6 linked regions of the Homo sapiens genome follow. The protein of the gene in region 1 purifies or fractionates together with the protein of each later gene. This does not show direct contact. Each region holds a gene or a part of one and is shown in the gene's direction. Other genes may lie near its edges. The genes, in order: AMOTL1, MRPS9, BLTP3B, CDADC1, RNF146 and SCML1.

Evidence for each region.
Region 2: the proteins of AMOTL1 (region 1) and MRPS9 purify together in Homo sapiens (affinity purification with mass spectrometry, with the first as the bait; one large-scale study listed by BioGRID). This does not show direct contact.
Region 3: the proteins of AMOTL1 (region 1) and BLTP3B purify together in Homo sapiens (affinity purification with mass spectrometry, with the first as the bait; one large-scale study listed by BioGRID). This does not show direct contact.
Region 4: the proteins of AMOTL1 (region 1) and CDADC1 purify together in Homo sapiens (affinity purification with mass spectrometry, with the first as the bait; one large-scale study listed by BioGRID). This does not show direct contact.
Region 5: the proteins of AMOTL1 (region 1) and RNF146 purify together in Homo sapiens (affinity purification with western blotting; one study listed by BioGRID). This does not show direct contact.
Region 6: the proteins of AMOTL1 (region 1) and SCML1 purify together in Homo sapiens (affinity purification with mass spectrometry, with the first as the bait; one large-scale study listed by BioGRID). This does not show direct contact.

The regions. Positions count from the first base shown.
Region 1 is NC_000011.10:94,862,354-94,865,989, forward strand, and holds part of AMOTL1 (angiomotin-like protein 1), read left to right. Parts: intron 1-2,381; coding exon 2,382-2,507; intron 2,508-3,588; coding exon 3,589-3,636. UniProt on the Homo sapiens protein: Inhibits the Wnt/beta-catenin signaling pathway, probably by recruiting CTNNB1 to recycling endosomes and hence preventing its translocation to the nucleus.
Region 2 is NC_000002.12:105,047,975-105,051,610, forward strand, and holds part of MRPS9 (small ribosomal subunit protein uS9m), read left to right. Parts: intron 1-1,196; coding exon 1,197-1,376; intron 1,377-3,636.
Region 3 is NC_000012.12:100,055,852-100,059,487, reverse strand, and holds part of BLTP3B (bridge-like lipid transfer protein family member 3B), read left to right. Parts: coding exon 1-1,459; intron 1,460-1,741; coding exon 1,742-1,917; intron 1,918-2,226; coding exon of another isoform or gene 2,227-2,282; exon of another isoform or gene 2,283-2,354; intron 2,355-3,636. UniProt on the Homo sapiens protein: Tube-forming lipid transport protein which mediates the transfer of lipids between membranes at organelle contact sites. Required for retrograde traffic of vesicle clusters in the early endocytic pathway to the Golgi complex.
Region 4 is NC_000013.11:49,264,831-49,268,466, forward strand, and holds part of CDADC1 (cytidine and dCMP deaminase domain-containing protein 1), read left to right. Parts: intron 1-1,048; exon of another isoform or gene 1,049-1,212; intron 1,213-1,953; exon of another isoform or gene 1,954-2,013; coding exon of another isoform or gene 2,014-2,026; intron 2,027-2,659; coding exon 2,660-3,229; intron 3,230-3,636. UniProt on the Homo sapiens protein: Catalyzes the deamination of cytidine and deoxycytidine into uridine and deoxyuridine, respectively. May play an important role in testicular development and spermatogenesis.
Region 5 is NC_000006.12:127,276,741-127,280,376, forward strand, and holds part of RNF146 (E3 ubiquitin-protein ligase RNF146), read left to right. Parts: intron 1-3,490; 5' UTR 3,491-3,598; coding exon 3,599-3,600; intron 3,601-3,636. UniProt on the Homo sapiens protein: E3 ubiquitin-protein ligase that specifically binds poly-ADP-ribosylated (PARsylated) proteins and mediates their ubiquitination and subsequent degradation. May regulate many important biological processes, such as cell survival and DNA damage response.
Region 6 is NC_000023.11:17,750,857-17,754,492, forward strand, and holds part of SCML1 (sex comb on midleg-like protein 1), read left to right. Parts: intron 1-958; coding exon 959-1,110; intron 1,111-2,401; coding exon 2,402-2,536; 3' UTR 2,537-3,636. UniProt on the Homo sapiens protein: Putative Polycomb group (PcG) protein. PcG proteins act by forming multiprotein complexes, which are required to maintain the transcriptionally repressive state of homeotic genes throughout development.

The DNA.
Region 1 (3,636 bases):
CTTATTGACTAGGTGCTAAATGGCCACAGTCAAATTGGTAAAAATGACTATTTCCAGCCATTAGTTTTGTGACTTTTCAACCACAGATGCATGCTTTATATTTATAATCAATGATTTTTAAACAAAGAAAATAACTTCTGTAAACCAACTGGTTTTCCCATCTTTATGCATCTTGATGGTGTTGGTCAGAATTTTTAGAGAGTCAGCTTATCTTTTATGTGTGCAGAAGGTTTTGAAAATTTTTAAAAATTTCAAAGCAATGTAATATTTCTTTCAGAGTTTTATATATTTACTATCTAAGTTGCTTTCCTCTAATTGTGTTTGCTCTCCTTACTTGGCAATGTAAACATGAATTTTCAGATTTGTTTCCAGCTCCATGTAAAGTCTCCAAAAGTAAATTTGTTGAAAATGTTTCTAGCCACTAATTTCTATATTGATGATTTTGTGCACCATAGTGTGAATTTATAATTTTGCAAATATGTTTAAAGCATTTTGTTTGCTTTCTACATCATTTGGCCTTTAGTGTATTTTCAATGACACTTTGCACTTTTCTGAGCCACATTCTCACATATGCCCTCTGGTTTGTTTTTATCTTTACTCATCTTTGCTGAGACCTTCTTCTTAAAGACATATGAAACTTGCAGGAGTATAGAGCGATGGTTAGGGGCATGGACTTTGGAGTCATAAATACCTGAGTTAGAATCCATTTTCACTATTCACTAACTGAGTATTCTTGGAAATGTCACCTAACCCTGGTTTCTTCATCTAGAAATTGAGGATAATAATACCTTGTGCACAAGTTGTGAGAACTAAATGAGAGACCATGTGTACCGTGCCCTACCCAGTCCCTGTATGAAGTAAATGCTCATTAATGTTGATAGCTGTCATTAAAGGGGCCTCTATTTTTCTGTTTTGGGCTATTCTGTAAAAAAAAAAAAAAAAGCTTTAAAGTTTTCAGGCGGGGCGCGGTGGCTCACGTCTGTAATCCCAGCACTCTGGGAGGCTGAGGCGGGTGAATCACCTGAGGTCAGGAGTTTGAGACCAGCCTGACCAACGTGGTGAAACACCATTTCTACTAAAAATACAAAATTAGCCAGATGTGGTGACGCATGTCTGTAATCCCAGCTACTTGGAAGGCTGAGACAAGAGAATCGCTTGAACTCAGGAGGTGGAGGTTGCAGTGAGCTGAGATCACGCCACTGCACTCCAGTCTGGGCAACAAGAATGAAACTCCATCTCAAAAAAAAAAAAGTTTTTCAGTATGATTGTACATTGGAATATGAAGTTAAAAGATGTGAAATACTTGGCTACATCATGTCTTACTAATTAAATACTCATGTAGTCAGAGCCATTATTGTGCCTTTCATCTTGAGCTATATCACTTAGATGATGCAGTGATCTTATTTTTACTAATCATTGTTAGTTAGTAGTAATTAAATTGTCAAAACCAGTGGCAGGAATAGTTATCTGTGACTGGTTGTTTATAGTCAGACAGATGCTTGCAGTGAAACTGCTTCTTGATCTTCTCGTGTCTGCCCTTGCCCTCACTGCACCCACCTCACCTGAACTTGTCAAGGACAGTGTCTGCCTTCTTCTTTCTGTCCTGGACCCTGGCATGCCTATTACATTGTCCTGACCTGCATCCCAGGCAGGGCCCATAAAACAAGAAGTGAGACAGAATACAACATGAAGGAAGACTTCAGCTTGGAGCCTCACTCTCTGAGAGGACCAGTCTCAGTTTTAAGTATTTACTGAGCCCCCATTTTACTGTAAAATACTGAAGTAGGCATTCTATGCTGTATGGATGATAAACAGAAATAAAACCTAAACTCTGATTGGAAAAGTGAGGTATAGGACAAGCATGAAAAAGTACAAGCATGGAAACACCAACAAATACAATAATAATAATAATAATAATAATAATAGTGTCCATAAGTCAGTAGATTAAATCTCTAGGTGCCCATTTTACATATTCATAACATGCCATGTAGCTACATACATAATGTAGTCAGAAGGGGGAGGGGACTTGATTTTTGAATTTTATTTTGTTTTCCTTAGATGCTGCTTAATTCTATCTAGTTAAGGAAGAGAATTGGACAGAATTCAGGAGAGGAAAAGTGGGTGAAGGAGTTTGTGGAGTTTTAGCACGGCACCCTGTGATCACCTCTCCACAAGCATTTACACCTTTCTCTGTATGGGCATCAGATGAGATTGATAACTGAGCTGGGGAAATTGGGAGGGAAAGGCTTCATGAGCCAATGCGAGATGCAGAGCTGATCTCTGTTCCAGCATGAACACCAGCCTCTCCATTCTGTGTCTGTTTGCATTGAGACAAAGCAAGAAGGTTTCCTATGATCAAACGCATATCCTTGTGTTGCCAGGGACACCACGATCATCAACCACTCACGGAATGGCAGCTACGGAGAGAGCTCGCTGGAGGCCCACATCTGGCAAGAGGAGGAGGAGGTGGTGCAGGCCAACAGAAGGTGTCAGGACATGGAATACACGTAAGGGACGACTATGTGTGACGTGTGGGGCCCGCTGCATTCACACTCCAGGCCTTCCAGAACAGATTGCTTCTCTGTCCTGTTCTGAAAGGCTGTGAGCATGAGGTCTCCAAAAACTCTCCTCCCCCATGCTGTGCCATGGAGAGAAGGAAAAGGTTCCAACCTAAGCACGTGGTTCCACTCAGCAATGGATCTGGTGCCGGAGTTCTCTGGGGGAAATTGCGTGTCACCTGCCGGTTTTAAGATGCAGGCTGAGTCTAGTGACAGAAGAATTTAGATGTCTGTGTTATTTCTTGGTGTCTATCTCTATGACATTATGAGCTGAAAGGGGGAAACATTATATCCCAAAGATTCAGAGTTTTTGAGCCAGAATTTATATATTCCAGTCCAAAATAAAGAACATATTTAGCTAATGCACTCTTCTGATGGGCTACACAAAATTTCCAGCAGACTTTTTGACATAATAAAACTAGCCTGTCCCCCTTCACTACCTAAGGGCTTGTGGAACCCTGGGAGCCCTAGGCCTCTTATTTTGCAGATGTGAAAATAGGGCTGAGTAGTTGAGCCATTGATAGATAGGCTCAGTGAGTTACTATCAAAGTTGTGAAAATAACTCAGCATTCTTCCAGAAAAATCATCTTCTACCAGAGAACCTGTTCATCTTGGTTCTTTTTTCTTAGAAAATAGAGAAATTGACTTTAGCTGAAAGCTCACCCTGTTTGAGGCTTTAGAGTTTTTATGCTTCCCTATCCCCTACCTACCCCCGGCCCCCACCGCCAATGCTAGACCCTCTAAATATGGTCCCCAGCCGACTTCGGTCCAGGAATGTGGCCACGGTCATTCTAACTGTACCTCGCTGAAGTCCCAGTCTCCCAAGGTGCCAGAGAAGGTGTACTCTTTTGACATATGACAAAAGACCTGTCTTAACAATTTGGAGATTATCAACATTTGAAGACTCGTACTGTGCTTCATCCTGTATCCCTAAATTACAATTAAAGTCTTTGGGACAGCCTGAGATAAATGTTTCAAGTTTTTCTAGCCAAGTGGCTTTTTATGGAGACTGTTTTGTTTTGTTTTACAGTATTAAAAATCTCCATGCCAAAATCATAGAGAAAGATGCTATGATTAA
Region 2 (3,636 bases), on another chromosome or scaffold:
AACTAGTTTACGGTCCCACCAACAGTGTAAAAGTGTTCCTATTTCTCCACATCCTCTCCATAAAGACACATGCACACGTATGTTTATTGCGGCACTATTCACAATAGCAAAGACTTGGAACCAACCCAAATGTCCAACAATGATAGACTGGATTAAGAAAATGTGGCACATATACACCATGGAATACTATGCAGCCATAAAAAAATGATGAGTTCATGTCCTTTGCAGGGACATGGATGAAATTGGAAATCATCATTCTCAGTAAACTATTGCAAGGACAAAAAACCAAACACCACATGTTCTCACTCATAGGTAGGAATTGAACAATGAGAACACATGGACACAGGAAGGGGAACATCACACTCTGGGGACTGTTGTGGGATGGGGGGAGGGGAGAGGGATAGCGTTAGGAGATATACCTAATGCTAAATGACGAGTTAATGGGTGCAGCACACCAGCATGGCACATGTATACATATGTAACTAACCTGCACATTGTGCACATGTACCCTAAAACTTAAAGTATAATAATAATTTTAAAAAAAAGAAAAATAAAAGATATGCGAGCCCTTATTTCTGCAGTTAGCATGTTGAGCCAAATTAATAAATCTTCTCAATGTTCAGTCAAGCAATTTTTTCTTTTTATCACTTTAATATAAGGACCATGGAATAAAGTCTTAAGCTAAGCCAAAAGATGGTTAAAGATAGGACGTATTTTTACCCACAAATAAGGTGAATACCGACAGTGTAAGGTGCTCTTCCTCAGGCCATGCCGTTTGCTGTCGTGTTTTCTGCTTGCTGGTTTCTGGTGCGTGTGTATTTGCCTCCTTAAGGGAGTAGCCTTTTGCTCTTTATCCCATGTGTCAAATATCAAAACTCACTGACATTGACCAATCATTATCAAAAGTGGATGTTTAAAATAGATCAGGAGGTAGCATACCACTTACAGGTATTTTTGGTTTTAATGTATTGAAATGCTAGTAGCTTAAACTGCATTGTAAGCAAGGCTTTGAGTAGGGGACACATTCTAACAACTTTCTTAGCAGGTCCTTTAAACTTGCTTTTTGGACTCCTGTCACTTGAATACCGTAATAAAAAAAGATAACTACTTGCATATACTATTTTATTTAAGGACAATGGCCTAGAAGATCACAGTTTAATTTATTTTCTTTTCTTTCCATCTATATTTTCTGTTAGATATTAAGGCTAAGACATACTGCATTTGTAATACCAAAGAAAAACGTTCCTACCTCAAAACGTGAAACTTACACAGAGGATTTTATTAAAAAGCAGATTGAAGAGTTCAACATAGGAAAGAGACATTTAGCCAACATGATGGGAGAAGATCCAGAAACTTTCACTCAAGAAGATATTGACGTAAGTACAGTTACTCTGTTGAAAAAGTAATTGCTGTAGAGTTTTAGATATTAAAAGCACTTTTCTTCATGAGCCCCTTAGCTCTGTGTTTTAATCAAGCTGTCAGAATAAGGAAAAATGCTGCTATACATTGTTTAAGTTGGAGCCATGGTTTCAAAGACAAATGTGCAGGATTTACTTAGTATGGTGAGTTTTAGGTGTTACCTAGAAATGAGTCTATAAATGCTCATACACTATTGGGAAATGTTTAACCTGTTGTGTAGTCTTAGACTCAGCTTTCTTACAAAATGATATAACAGATGGTAATGAAAATAGAGTCAAATTTATATCAAGTCCCATAAGTAAACCTTGGCCCAGTGTTTTTGTCAACTTAAATATATATCTGAGGTTTCAAAATGGGGGCGTAGTCTAAGTGATTTGAAAATTAGGATCAGAATTCTATTCACTCTTGAATTATTATATTCCTGATAAAAGCAGTAATTGTCGATAATATTTTTGCTAGACATCCTAGAGTAGCTAGCAAAGGAAGTTGAATTTAACAACTTTGAATCTTGTCCTTATTTTTAAAAAGTAACATCTAATATCCCATGATGTTTTATATTTAATCGAAGAACAACATCTTTGTATAGATAATAACATTCTTATACGATTTTAATATTATTTTTAGTCATTTTATGCACTTTAGTTTAATTTCAATCTTTCTGTATACTTTTCCTATTTATAAATGGTACTGTAGTATCACTTTCAGACCAACATTTTTTATTCAACCAGAAGGATTTTTTTCTTTTCTTTTCTTTTCTTTTTTTTGAGACAGAGTCTTGCTCTGTTGCCCAGGCTAGAGTGCAGTGGCACGATCTTGGCTCACAGCAACCTCTGCCTACTGGCTTCAAGCAGTTCTCCTGCCTCAGCCTCCTGAGTAGCTGGGCTTACAGGCACGCACCACCATACCCAGATAATTTTTGTATTTTTAGTACAGATGGGGTTTTACCATGTTGGTCAGGCTGGTCTTGAACTCCTGACCTCTGGCGATCCACCCATCTCAGCCTCCCAAATTGCTGGGATTACAGGCGTTAGCCACCCGGCCCGGTCCAGAAGGATTTCTTATTGCTCTTCTATGTTAGGTGATTTGTAATTAGGGACTTTGTAGCTGCTGTCCTCTTTTTGAGTTTTATGGTAATCTGGACAGTATTGGGGGATATTTTCCATAAAGAGATGCTATTCTTCAGTTAAGTATAAAATACCATGAGATGTTAGATATTACATTTTAAAAATTAGAACAAGATTCAAAGTTGTTAAATTTAAGCTCCTTTGCTAGCTATCCTGGGGCATTTAGCAAAAAAAATTATTGACCATTATTGCTTTTGTCAGGAATGTAATAATTGAAGAGTGCAACAGGAATAGAATTCAGGTCCTAATTTTCAAATCACCTAGAACATAGACTCTCTAGACTCTAAGTTTGCCTACCCCGGACTTTCATATAAGTAGAGTCATACAGTATTTGGTCTTTAGTGACTGACTTGTTTCACTTAGCACAATGTTTTCATGTTTATCTACATTGTGGCATGTGTCAGTACTTCCTTTTTATTACTGAATAGTTTTCGATTGTATGGATATACCACATTTTAAGAATTCAGTCATCAGTTGATGGGCATTTGGATTTCCATTTTTAGTTCTGATGAATAATACTGCTAAGAATGTGCATGCTATAAAGTTCTTGTGTAGACATATGTTTTTATTTCTCTTATGTGTATACCTTAGAAACCATTGCTAATCCAAGGTCATGAAAATTCACCCTTATATTTTCTTCTTCTAGTTTTGTAGTTTTAGCTCTTACATTTAGGTCTTTGATCCATTTTAACGTAATTTTTGTGTGTGATGTGAGGCAGGGATGTAGCTTTGTTCTTTTACATATGGACATTCAGTTGTTCCGGCATCATTTGTTGGAAAGACTATTTTTTCCCATTGAATTATTTTATCACTTATATTGAATATCAGTGTAACTATGAGGGCTTATTTCTGGACCTTATTTTATTCCATTGATCTATACATTTATCCTTATGCCAGTACCACTTTGTCTTGATTACTGTAGCTTTATAGTAAGTTTTGAAATTGGGAAGTGTAAGTAGTCTTCTTTCCTTCTTGCTTTTAAAGACTATTTTGGTTGTTCTTTGCTCCTCGAATTTTCATATGAAATTTTAGGATCAGCTTGTCAGTTCCTGCAAGGAGCCACCTAAGATTTTGATAGGGATTGTGCTGAATC
Region 3 (3,636 bases), on another chromosome or scaffold:
CACGTGCAATTTCTATTCAGAGTTCTGAAATGATTGCCACAAATACAAGGCACTGTCCAAACTGTCGACATTCTGACCTAGAAGCTTTGTTTCAAGACTTTAAAGATTGTGATTTTTTTAGTAAAACATATACCAGCTTCCCCAAATCTTGTGACAATTTTAATCTTCTACATCCAATTTTCCAGAGACATGCTCATGAACAAGATACCAAAATGCATGAAATTTATAAAGGAAATATTACTCCCCAATTGAATAAAAACACTCTTAAAACTTCTGCTGCCACGGATGTTTGGGCTGTGTACTTTTCTCAATTTTGGATAGATTATGAAGGGATGAAAAGTGGAAAAGGACGGCCAATAAGTTTTGTAGACTCATTCCCTCTTTCCATTTGGATTTGTCAACCAACAAGATATGCAGAGTCACAAAAAGAGCCGCAGACTTGTAATCAGGTATCTCTAAATACATCACAAAGTGAATCTAGTGATCTGGCTGGCCGATTGAAGCGGAAGAAGCTCTTGAAGGAGTATTATAGTACAGAGTCTGAGCCTTTGACAAATGGTGGTCAGAAGCCTTCTTCATCAGATACATTTTTCAGATTTTCCCCTTCCTCGTCAGAGGCAGATATTCATCTCCTAGTTCATGTTCATAAACATGTCAGTATGCAGATTAATCACTACCAGTATCTGCTTCTACTTTTCCTGCATGAGTCACTTATCCTGCTTTCAGAGAACTTAAGGAAAGATGTAGAAGCTGTAACTGGCAGTCCTGCTAGTCAGACATCCATTTGTATTGGAATTTTACTTAGAAGTGCAGAACTGGCTCTTTTGCTCCATCCAGTGGATCAAGCAAATACTCTTAAGTCTCCTGTTTCTGAAAGTGTGAGCCCAGTGGTACCTGATTATTTGCCTACAGAAAATGGGGATTTTTTGTCTTCAAAAAGAAAACAAATTAGTAGGGATATAAATAGAATTAGAAGTGTAACTGTTAATCATATGTCAGACAACAGATCTATGAGTGTTGACCTTAGCCATATCCCTTTAAAGGATCCTTTGCTTTTTAAATCAGCTAGTGATACAAATCTGCAAAAAGGCATTTCTTTTATGGACTATTTATCAGATAAACATTTAGGGAAAATAAGTGAAGATGAAAGTAGTGGACTTGTTTACAAAAGTGGCTCAGGAGAAATTGGATCAGAAACAAGTGACAAAAAGGATTCATTTTATACAGATTCAAGTAGTATCTTAAACTACAGAGAAGATTCGAATATACTTTCATTTGATAGTGATGGTAATCAAAACATACTTTCAAGTACTTTAACTAGTAAAGGAAATGAAACCATAGAGTCCATCTTTAAAGCTGAAGATTTGCTTCCAGAAGCAGCTTCACTCTCTGAAAACCTGGATATCAGTAAAGAAGAGACCCCCCCAGTTAGAACACTTAAATCACAGTCATCTTTAAGGTAACAACATTTTATTGGCCTTTTTAAAAATTAATTTATTTTGTGGAGCGTGTGTGCCTATGAGTGTATTTTGTTTTGAGGCAGAAAAGCTCATGACAAAATATGGCATTGTTAACATGTAGAAGAGTAGATGTTTCAAAATATGAAAACACTTTGAGCTTATACGTTTAAATATAATTTCAGCTATGGATGCTATATACATATTTTAATTCTCTTAGAAGTATTTTTTAGATAGAATTCTTTTCTCTATATGTAATAATTTTCTAATAATTTTGTTAACAGTGGAAAGCCTAAGGAACGTTGCCCACCCAACCTGGCTCCTCTCTGTGTTTCTTATAAGAATATGAAAAGAAGCTCTTCACAAATGTCATTGGATACCATTTCACTTGACAGCATGATATTGGAAGAACAGTTATTAGAAAGTGATGGAAGTGATAGCCATATGTTTTTGGAAAAAGGTAAAGTTATGATACGGCTTAAGAATTCATATTACGTACATACACCTTAGGAGAAAAGGGATGCTTTTAGTTATATTCAGTAATTGTTAACTGTACCCATGCTTTTTAAAGTTACTGAACATAACTAAAAATAACTGAATATTTCTACTTATATTTAGTAATTGTTAATTATTAATAATATTTAGTTATTTTTAGATATATTCTAATTGTTCATTATAGCCCCCCAAAAAGACTTATTTATACATACAGGGACTATGCAAGAGTACCTAACTTTCCTCTAATGGTTGTTCCATTGTTTCTTTTAACCAGATACTCCTGCCTCTCTATGGCTGAGATCCAGCAATTATATGTATGCAGTCATTTAGACCATAAAGCAGGCGACATTAAGGCTACCAGCCTCTATTACAGAGACTCCTATATTTGGAAATTTGATTAGGTGGGCTTAATTTGCATGGTGAATTCTACTGATTTACAAAATTAGGATTCTTTCACATATATGATAGTATATGGTGTAACTACATGATTTTCCCATTTTATTGAGAGACAACCAATGCCCCAGTAAAGACTGCTAGAAATGACTTAGAAGGTGTTAGTTGCATCTCCCTCATTAAGGCATTAAGGAGTTTGTAAACAGGAATTAGAAGCATGGGCCATAGTCAGAAAGTAGTTGCTGCAGACACAAAAACATAGGATACCAGAGGCAAATATGAATTACTTTCTTTTTTCTTTCTTTCTTTTTTTTTTTTCACTCTGTCGCCCAGGCTGGAGTGCAGTATTGTGATCTCAGCTTACTGAAACCTCTGCCTTCGGGTTCAAGCAGTTCTCCTGCCTCAGCCTCCCAAGTAGTTGGGATTGCAGGCATGCACCACCATGCCTGGCTAATTTTTGTATTTTTACTAGGGATGGGGTTTCGTCATGTTGGCCAGGCTGGTCTCAAACTCCTGACCTCGAATGATCCGTGCACCTCGGCGTCCCAAAATGCTGGGATTACAGGCATGAGCCACCATGCCTGGCCTGAATTACTTTCTGTTTGAAAGGAAATAAGCCCACTGATTTAGATGAAAAGCTTAGATTAGATAATTAGTAACATAATAAATATAACAAGTATATAATAAGTAATAATATAATATGTATTATTGATGTAAGTACCATAGTGGTAGCTACCATTTATTGCCAAGCAATGTCTGTTTTGTTCTATCACAGAATACCACAGACTGGGTAATTTATAAAGAACAGAAATTTATTTCTCACAGTTCTGGAGGCTGGGAAGTCCAAGATCAAACCTCATCAAATTGTAAGCGTTGCATTTTGCAGTCCTCTGGAGGTCAAGAGAAGCTACCTGAAGCCTCTTTTTTAAGGGTCTTAATCCCATTCATGTAGGGGTAAGCTCTCATGGGCTGATCATCCTTTAAAAGCCCTACCTCTTAGTACTATCACTTTGCCAACACATGAATTTCAAAGGGACGCATTCATACTGTTGCAGGTGCTTAAATAGTTTACTTCTTTTAATTTGAGTGACAACTCTGTAATAATAGAAGCTAACATTTATTGAGCATTTACTTTGTGTTGGTACCATTCTATATGCTTTGTATATATATTAATGAATTTAAACCTCACAATTCTGTCAATAGTATACTGTTATCTTCAGAGAGTGGTTAAATAACGAATCCAAAGTAACACAGCTAATTAGTGGTTTAAATTCAGACATAGAGCCTATTG
Region 4 (3,636 bases), on another chromosome or scaffold:
GTCTTTTCAAGTTTAACTCACTGAATTCATAATGAATTATGAGGTAGCTACCATTATTTCCCCCATTTTACAAATAGGGAAACTGAGGCTGGGAGACATTATTTAACTTGCCCAAGTTTCTAAAGCCAGTTACTGGCAGAACTGGTATTTGAACCTACTTAATCTGATTCTAGAGCCTGTGCTATATAAACTCTTACCCACTATGCTATGCTATTCATTAGTATCCATTTAACAATTACTACTATTGCAATAGCTGCAATTATCACTCCTATAGTACAGGGGAATCTATCAAAGAAACACTCAGCTTTCACTTATCTATTTCTGAAAACATTTTTTATTAAAGTATAAGGTGCATTTCACTGATCTATTTTTATAATTGTCAATTTATTTAAGTACTTTGATTATATGATGTAAGAAAAATGTTAGAAATGTCTTCTGGAATTAACCAGAACACAATAAATGTGCAAAAATTAGAATGGAATTTACAGAGTTTATAGGCCACTGAAGCCCATCCATGAAACCCTTCATGAAACTCATTCATGAGGCCAAAGGGCAGAACAAACCCTCCCTGAAAATCTCAATTGGGCTTTTAGAATTTAAATTTAAATGTCTATACGAATTCTGCTGCTCAGTTTTGTCCTTCCACTCTTCTTAATTTTCCAGTGATATTGCTGATAACTATTGTTTTTCCTTTTACTATTAATCCAAATATTAAAGATATTTGTAAAAATTTAAAACAATCTCATTCTTACAAATTTTTGTTTTGGAAAATAGTTTTTTTCATAAAGCTAATGTTATTTATATTAATGTATAACAGATTATTGTTATTTTTAATGAATTAATAAATATTTTAAATTTTGTTTTAATTTTCAAGTACAGTAAATATCAGTAGATATATTCCACATAAATAAAAGCTTTTTGGAGTCCTCAATAATTTTTAAGAGTGTTAAGGAATCCTGAGATCAAAAAATTTGAGAAACTCTGCTTTAGCATTTGCCACTAATACACAAATGTCTGTCTAAAGAGGATTTTTCCCCTCTTGAATCAGGATTACTGGAAGCAGCTAAGATGCCTAGATGAAAGGTTTACCATCACTGCTGGTTAGGAAATGGATTATGAGAACTCGAACAGAGGGAAGGTGAAATGCAACCGGAGGAAACACTCTGATATGAGGTTTGAGGCCTTCAAAATTGCTTTGCAGCATAAGCCACAGTGAGTCAGGAGTACCAGGGAGTGGATAGAATGTTTATTTGTTTAACTGAGACTTTTTAGTTCATCAATTATTTTGAAGGGTAGAACACTCTGTGGGCTCTCTTTCTATTTGCTTCTGGGTACAATCACAAAAAAAAAATCTCTCCTAGCTGAAATTACATGCAGTACTAGCAAAGGGGTCTCTTTGTTATAAACTGTTCATTAATTGACGAACATTTGTGTACTTAACTATGTATAAGGCATCTCATCGTTCAATTTCAAATACAAATTAAAATATTTTTTCACATTTGTTATCCTGTTATGTTTTCTCTTTTACAAATTGTCTGTTCGTATCTTTTTGTCTCTCTTTAGGCCTTATTCTTGTCAATTCATATGTGCTCTAATGAATTGAAATATTTTCTGTATATTAAACATTACTAACCTTTCCTCTGTCACACTGATTGAAAAATGATCTATTTAGTTTGTTGTTTTGTCTTTAATTTTGTAAGCTTTAAAAAGTTAATATTGCCCTTCAGACACCATCCCAACATCACATAAGAATTTTTTCATGTTATAAATTCTTTGTGGACATATTTGATAACTGTTTTATTATGAGGAGGACCATAATTAATTCAACCATTCCCCTATTTTGGTCATTTAGGTTTTTGGGTTTGGGTTTTTTGTTTGTTTAACGTCTTTGCTTGCTATTTTAAAGAATGCTGCACTAAATGTGCATGCATGAGATTTCTTCTCTGTATTTAGAATATTTTCCTAGAATGGATTCTCAGAAGAATTCTCAGTCTGTGGAGAGGAACATTTTTAATGCATGGAAGAGGTATTTATTCCAGATAGAAAACTAGGCAATATTAGTTGTTCCCTGTAAGATTTTAAAAAACAGCCATGGCACCATGGAGGACTCTTCGAGTATATAGTTTTAGCGCTGGGCTTTGGGATCACACTTCACAACACCAGTAACTCCACAAATGCATTCCTAGAGGCTCTGTGAGAGGCTGGGTAACTTTTTCTTGAAAAGGCCAGATAATAAATATTTTAGACTTTGCAGGCCGTGTGGTGTCTGTCACAGCTACTCAACTCTGCCACACGAAAGCACCCAAAGACTATATAAGTGAATGGGTGTGTCTGTGTTTCAATAAAGGTTTATTTATGGATACTGAAATTTGAATTTCTGACAGTTCGATGTGTCACAAAATGTTCTTTTGATTTGTCCAACTATTTTAAAATGTAAAACCCATTCTTAACCTGTGAGCTGTACAAAGACTGGCAGTGGACTGGATTTGGCCTGTGGGTGGTAGTTTGCCAACCCTCAGGCTATATAATAGGTGACTTGGTAATAGACATTTATTATATTGAGGGTTCTAGATATACTGCAATGATAGGGTGGATTTTATAATGAAAACCCTAAATTCAGCATGTATCTCATAATTACCTTTCGTATTTTGTATTTCAGCTGGAGTTAACCGAATTTCATACTGGCCTGCTGATCCAGAAATAAGTTTGCTTACGGAGGCTTCTAGTTCTGAAGATGCAAAGTTAGATGCCAAAGCAGTGGAAAGATTGAAGTCAAACAGTCGGGCCCATGTGTGTGTCTTACTTCAACCTTTGGTGTGTTATATGGTGCAGTTTGTAGAGGAGACCTCTTACAAATGTGACTTTATTCAAAAAATTACAAAAACATTGCCGGATGCTAACACTGACTTTTATTATGAATGTAAACAAGAAAGAATAAAAGAATATGAAATGTTATTTTTGGTTTCAAATGAAGAAATGCATAAGCAAATACTGATGACTATAGGTTTGGAGAACCTGTGTGAAAATCCATACTTTAGCAATCTAAGGCAAAACATGAAAGACCTTATCCTACTTTTGGCCACAGTAGCTTCCAGTGTGCCGAACTTTAAACACTTCGGATTTTACCGTAGCAATCCAGAACAGATTAATGAAATTCACAATCAAAGTTTGCCACAGGAAATTGCAAGGCACTGCATGGTTCAGGCCAGGTTATTGGCATATCGAACTGGTGAGTTACATAGATCGTAAATTGGGGCTGATTGGTTGGGTTGTATTTGTCTCTGAAGTGTTCGTCTCATTTATGGTAGAGTTCATTTACTCATAGTTACTTAAGTTTTGCTGTTCATACAATATAGAGAAGTTAGTGAGACCCTTGAGTAGACAACTCTTTCTCCCAGCAGTTTTGGGATTCCTTGTAGCCTTATATTCAGTACCACATTTCTACATCAGGCCCTCATTAATCTAGGCCCTTCTTTCTGCTTCTTGCTTTTATGATTTCACTGTTCCTTGAGCCCTCCACTAAAGGTAGGACAAGAAGAGAAAGGAGAGGCCCAGTGCAGTGGTTCATGCCTGTAATTGCAACACTTTAGAAGGCTGAGACAGGAGGATCGCTTGAGCTCAGGAGTTCAAGACCAG
Region 5 (3,636 bases), on another chromosome or scaffold:
AGGTGACAACTAGCTTTAAATGTGATTATAATATTTGGTTGCTGGAGAGTAGATTAATTTCTTCAAATTTAGGATTTAAGGAACTGAAAATTGAGGATGGTGTTTCTCAGATTGTATTTGAAGGACTAAAGCATGAGTACCACCTGGGGTGAGATTCCTAGGTTTAAACCTATGTCTACTGGCCTAGAATTTCTAAGGAAAGGGGCTGAGAATATGTATTTCTAACAAGCAATTTCAGTGATTCTGATGAATAGAAGTTGGGACAAGTTTAAGAACCTGTGCAATAGGTGTTGGATGGTTCATTTTCAAGGCTATTTAAATAGGCTGATAGTCATGTCAGGAGTTAGGATGAAGAGGATGATCAGTAGTGAAAAGATGACATTAATCCCTTACAGGTGGTGAGAGAGCAGTTTTAGGGGATTATGGGGTATGTTAAAGTCAGTGTGATAGAGACTTGAAAGAAAAAGTAATGATGTTGGAGCAGTAAATTGTCTCCTCCTGTCCTATATATAGGGAGTGTATGAAAATGTGCAGTTTTCTGTTTGGCGTAGGCTGCAGCAAGGAAATGAACATAGCCTTCTTTGATGCCATTGAAGTTGTAGGCTCCTTGAAGTTGGTGAAAGGGTTGAGAGGAAAGTCAAAATAGTGGAGTCCATTTCATCTAAAGTCAGAGTAAAACAAAAAGGTTACTTAGAAACCTTGTTTAGTCAGTATATTAGGCAGTGTTCTCTAGGGGGACAGAACTAATAGAATATATATATGAGTTTATTAAGTATTAGCTTACACGATCACAAAGTCCCACAACAGGCTGTCTGCAAGGAGCAAGGAGAGCTAGTCCGAGTCCCAAAACTGAAGAACTTGGAGTCTGATGTTCGAGGGCAGGAAGCATCCAGTACAGGAGAAAGATGTAGGCTGGGAGGCTAGGCCCATCTTTCTTTTTCACATTTTTCTGCCCGCTTTATATTCACTGGCAGCTGATTAGATTGTGCCCACCAGATTAAGGGTGAGTCTGCCTTGCCCAGCCCACTGACTCAAATGTTAATCTCTTGGCAACACCCTCACAGACACACCCAGGATCAATACTTTGTATCCTTCACTCCAATCAAGTTGACACTCGGTATTAACCATCACAGTCAGTTACTTTTGAAAGTTCTCTGATTTTAAAACAAATTGTTTGTTCTGTTAAACATTTGGTAGGATAAGTCAGCTTGTATTTAGGGGCCACATAATGGCATTAAGAATATGTTTCTTTAAACACTAGAATCTTAAGATACCGTAGGGAGATAGATGCCCATAGTATGAGAGCCACATGGAAATAAAAGAAGATTGAAGTCTCCTCTATCTTGTGTTTACTGTGAGATCTATCATTTCTTTAGTTATCATGTGTTCTTGATTATTCTGTGTAATATGATGTGCGTCCTGTAGTGGACATGGTGAGGTGGAGATGGAAATACTAAATGAGAAGAAAGAAGATTAATGACTGAGATGGTACAGGTTTTTAAGAGTACAATTCCATGTAGTTAATTTCATTTACAATGTTATGCAACTATCACCATTATAGATTTTCCACAACTTTTTTTTAGCATTACAAACAGAAACTCTGTACCCATTAGGCAATAACTCTCCACTTTCCTTCCTTCACTCTCTGGTAACTTCTGATACCTTCTGCTTCTATGAATTTGCCTATTCTTGATATTTCATGTAAGTGGAATCATACTTTTCTGTATGTGGCTTATTAGTATGTTTTCAAGGTTCATCTATATTGTAGCACATATTTCTTTTTATTACTGAATAATGTACTGTTGTATTTATAGACCACATTTTGTTTATCCATTCATCTGTTGGTAGATACTTGAATTGTGTCCACCTTTTGCCTAATATTTCCGCAGTGAATATTGGCATACAAGTGTCTGAGAACCTCTTCAATTCTATTGCTATATCCCTGGGAGTGGCATTGCTGTGTTAGCTTTTTGAGGAAGCAACAAATTATTATTCACAGCAGCTACACCCTTTTACCTTCCTACCAGCAGTTTTCAAAGGTCCTATTTTTCTACATCCTCACCAACACTTATTATTTTTCCCTTTAAAAAAGTTGTAGCCTCCTTATAGATGTATCATTGTGATTTTGATTTACATTTCCCTAATTACTAATAATGTTAAGGATCTTTTTGTGTGTTTATTGGCCATTTGTGTATCTTCTTTAAGTTCTTTACTCATTTTTTGCTCACTTTTTAATTGGTTTGTCTTTGTTGTTGAGCTGCAGTTCTTTACATATTCTGGATATTAAACCTTTATCAGATACATGATTTGCCAAGATACTCTCCCATTCTGCAGTTTGTCTTTTTATTTTCTTAACAGTGTCTTTTGATGCACAAAAATTTTAAACTTATATAAAGCCCAATTTATTTCCTATGTTTCTCATGCTTTTGATGTCATATCTAGGAATCCATTGCAAATCTAAGGCCATGAAGATTTGCTCCTGTGTTTTCTATTAAGAGTTTTATGGTTTTATTTCTTATATTTAGGTTATTGATTCATTCTGAGTTAACTTTTATATATAGTATACGGTAGAGGTCCAGCTTAATTATTTTGCATGTGGAAATCCAGTTGTCCCAACAACATTAGTTAGAGGTGCCTGTTTTCCCCCATTGAGTAGACTTGACACCCTTTTGGAAAATCAGTTGGCTATTGATGTATGAGTTTATTTCTGGACTCTCAATTCTATATCATTGGTGTATTTATCTGTCCTATGCCAGCACCAAACTGTCTTGTTACCTTAGCTTTGTAGTAAGTTTTGACATTGGATTTTTCAAGATTGTTTGGGTTACTTAGGGTCCTTTGCAATTCCATATGAATTTGAGGATTGCTTTTCCATTTCTGCAAAAAAGGTTGTTGGAATTGTGATAGGAATTATGTTGAATCTGTAGATCACTTTGGGTAGTATTGTCATTTTAATATGTTAAGTCTTCCAATCCATACATCACTTGTCTATTTACTTAGCTCTTCTTTAATTTCTTTCAGTAATGCTTTATAGTTTTCTGTGTACAAGTCCTTCACCTCCTGGGTTAAGTTGATTCCTGGCTATTTTATTCCCTTAGTTACTTTATGAATGAACTGTTTTCTTGATTTCTTTTTTGGATTGTTGTCTCCTGGTGTATCAGAACACAACTGATTTTTTTGTGTGTCAAACTTGTAACCTGCAACTTTGCTGAATTTGTTTATTAGCTTTCTTGGGGATTCTATGAGATCTTCTATCTAGAGAGAATAGACATAGTTTTACTTCCTCCTTACCCGTCTGTATGCCTTTATCTCTTTTCCCTAATTTGCTCTGCTAGAACTTACAGTCATGTTGAATAGCAGTGGTAAAAGCATGCATCTTGTCTTTAATTTTTCCCACTTTTAAGATAAAGTTTTCCACTGAATTTTTTGAAAGGATTATACATAATTAACTGATTCTCTTGATCTTAATTACTCTTTTTTTCTTTTGCAGCACAAAGAATGAACCAGCAGTGGAAGAGAAAATACTGTAAGCTGGCTGACTGCTGGTGAAGAAAATGCTTTATTTTTGTGGCAGGCATCTGTGGGATCTGTAATAGAAATGTAAGTGTAGCATCATGGTTTTTTTCAGTGCTGCAG
Region 6 (3,636 bases), on another chromosome or scaffold:
GGAGAAACAAATTTTCCTAACTAATTACAAAACCCACTTTAGTCATCACACACTAATTTTAGGGAGTCTAACACTGTGGGTGAGTAAAAGGATACTTGTCAGTACACAAAGAAATTTCAACACAACTTAGTGTAGAGCATAGCTAAAACTTTCTGAAGTATGAGCAGTTAAACTGTCTCATATCTCAGTTATTTTTTAAACATATAAACCTTTGACCAAAATCTCTATTACTATGCAATTAAACATGAAAGAGGAATTAAATAAAATGTTAGTTACTTCTGACCTAGTTCAGCAGAAAATAATCTTGTTTTCTTCACAATGCACATTAGCACTTAAGCCACGAGAGACAGGAATCTAAAAAGTAAAGCGATACTAAAAATAACCTTATTGAATACGTGGGGAAGATTTGATAAAAGTACTAATTTGGTTCTTAAAGATAATGGGGTTGTTATTGAGATTCATTGATTAAAAGGAACAAATTTAAGCAATTATAAAACTGTAAATTTGGAGAATTTCCATTATATTTTGCTAGTAAAATTAACCTAATCTAGATAGATTAAGAGAGAAATTCCTTGAAATACTTGAAGAGAGTCATAGGTTAGGTTAGATTAACCTAATTTTACCCAAGTGACAGATCTTTTGCCATATTTGCCTGTGGCCAAAGAAGACTTGGTTTACTTAGTCTGTTTTGTGATCTTTGAAACTTTAATGTAACTTCTGAACCAGCTTTTGCTATTTAGGGGAGGTCAGATGGGACACTCTTGTGTAGGCATCCCCACATCATCTTTATATAGGCTTTCACTAGATTTTACAGTTGGAGTCTTGACTCCTTGCTAGGAACATCACAGAAGGTTCCAACAAAGAGAGCATTCCTCCTTACCTAACATCTCTTCTTTCAGGATAATGATCAGGTCGAGTGTGATTTGTCTTTTTTTTCTTTTCCCCCTCTCCATTGAAGTTACAAGGTCACCAGTTGAAAATGACGGTTACATAGAGGAAGGAAGCATCACTAAGCACCCTTCAACCTGGTCGGTGGAAGCAGTGGTCCTATTTCTAAAACAAACAGATCCTCTTGCATTATGCCCTCTTGTCGACCTCTTCAGAAGCCATGTAATGTATCTTTTGATCCTGTTTTCCTGCTGTAATGCCTTTGAATGACCTCTGTGCAGGTCTTTCAGTTGGATACTGTGTGAATGGTGGGAGAACCCTATTAGCTGATTTTTCCATATATGAGAAAGCTTATTTTGCCCAAGGTTAGCCTTAAATGGTAGGCTAATGGTCTGTTCTTTAAATGGGTGTAGAAGTGCCTAAAATACAAACTGCCTCAGCTTCTTAAGACATGATGATTCAGCATGGCCACTCAGGTGTACCTCCCCTTTGTAATGACAGATACAAAGATCCTCCCCCTATCTGCTCCCAGCTGGGCACCAGGACCACGAGGAGGAGGGGGTAACCACAAGCTATAACAGGGTGGCCTTCGTTTTATATAACCAGTGATTCAACAACTGATTCCATTTGCCTCGATTATTGATGATTTGTAATGCTAATACCCTCTTGCTATTATCAGACCATTTACAAAGTAATATCCTAGGCCGAAGTTTTGTAAGTTCTAGTTTCTTTAATTTTGAGTTTTACTTAGTAGAAAAAGTATAGAAGGTGCCAAACAAAGGTTGTACTATAAGGGATTTCAGACCTTTTCAGATAGTGTTAAATGAGTAAATAAAATTTTATTTTTTAACTGGAACATATAAAACCAAATCATATGCTTCAGCAGCATAAGTTGATCAATTAAGATAAGGAATTTTAGGAGAATGCTTTGTGACTATGTTTTATTTATTCAGATATTTTCACAGTGTGTCCTAACAAAATTAGTAGCCACATATCTGATTTTTAATATAGTAAGAAAATTGGTGATTAGTTTTAGCATCTAATTAGTTTCAGACAACTAATTGGCATTCATCATAAAGACAACATTGTATAGACATTTACAGTTTGCACTGATGTTGACGTACTCATCTTCCCAGCCCTTCTCAGAAAGTTAATGAACATCTGAAATTCATTTTTACTATTCATAGTCTTTACTATTTTGTCATGGATGTGTAGTATTTTATTCAACATACAGTATATATTTAAAATTAAGTTTGACACAGTTTATTTTTTAAGATATTATGTTAAATTTCCTTTTTCTCAGAACTTGAAATGAGTTTATACATTACCAAACGGTGCTTCACTGTACAAGTTATATTTTTAATAGTTTTCATAAAGTAGACGCATATTCAGAGAATATACATCTGCAATGAGCTGCTCTCTAGTTTGCTTTACATGTTCTCATAAAGAACTAACCATTCTGATGAAAATATGGAAGCATTATTAATTATCGTTAAGTTTCTTCTCTCCATAGGAAATTGACGGGAAGGCTCTGCTCCTACTCACGAGTGACGTGTTGCTGAAGCACTTGGGGGTGAAGCTGGGAACGGCTGTGAAGCTATGCTACTACATTGACCGACTTAAACAAGGAAAATGCTTTGAAAATTGAAAAAATCCTTGTGCAAATTTAGATTGGGCCAACTTCTAGAGGCACCAATGCCTTCTTAGTGTGGAATCATTTTTCTGCCCTTTAGTCGTTTTTGTTTTGTAGAAAGTATCTCTCAAAATATATTATAGCTAGAATTGTAGAACTATGTTATAGTCCAGTCTACTTCTTTAAAAACCATTTAAACTGCTAGATAGTATTAGAATAGTCCAATAGAAAATTCATTCTTTATAGGTCTTTAAAAATTACTTTTATTATATTGTTTACAAATATATTTCATGCAAGAAACAGAAAAAAAAAAAAACCCTTTGATTCTGGTTCATCTCGATACAGAGAACCAAAACAGCTAAGAGAGGTATTATCAGGGTTGACAACTCCTATGATTGAATCTATGGGAATTATTCCTCAGAAGAGAATTTAAAGGTGTACCCATATATATCTCTTTCTGGAGTATTTTATCTGTCTGATGTTGCAGTATTCTACAAGTTTCCAGAAAGAGAATAGCCATATAAATTATTTTCCTTTCTGCTATTATTTCTCTATATGTTTTATTTATTCAGATTTAGAGTAAAAAATAAGCATATAAACTTTTATTATGTGCTCTTAACAGTTTTAAGATAAACTATAGGATAGATAGAATGGTTATTTTATGCAAGAAATATTGTACCGCAAGGGTGGTTTGGATGAAGTCTGACTACTTTTTTTCAAACAAACTATTATATTAAAACTGTCATATTTTGGCTAAGTTTGGACCTATAACTACACTTTCATTGTTTGCATCTCTCTATGAAGATACGTCTGTCCAAACTTTTAAAAGGCATAACTGTATTTTATGTGTTTATTCTTTATATAGATAGTATTTTATATTTTATTCTCACCCGAAGTATTCACACAATCTTTTTAAAAAAAATTTGAAATGGCATTTTGTATTGCCACAGAGGTAGGATGAGCCATATATTAGTGAAATGTTTTATTTTGTAAAATATAAATGGATTATTTGCCATCATTAGTACCTCTCAACTTACTTTTTAGAGGACAAGAAACAATCTGTAGATTGGTTTCCATACAGGGAAGTTCTCCGTCCTATGCAATGTTTCTAATTA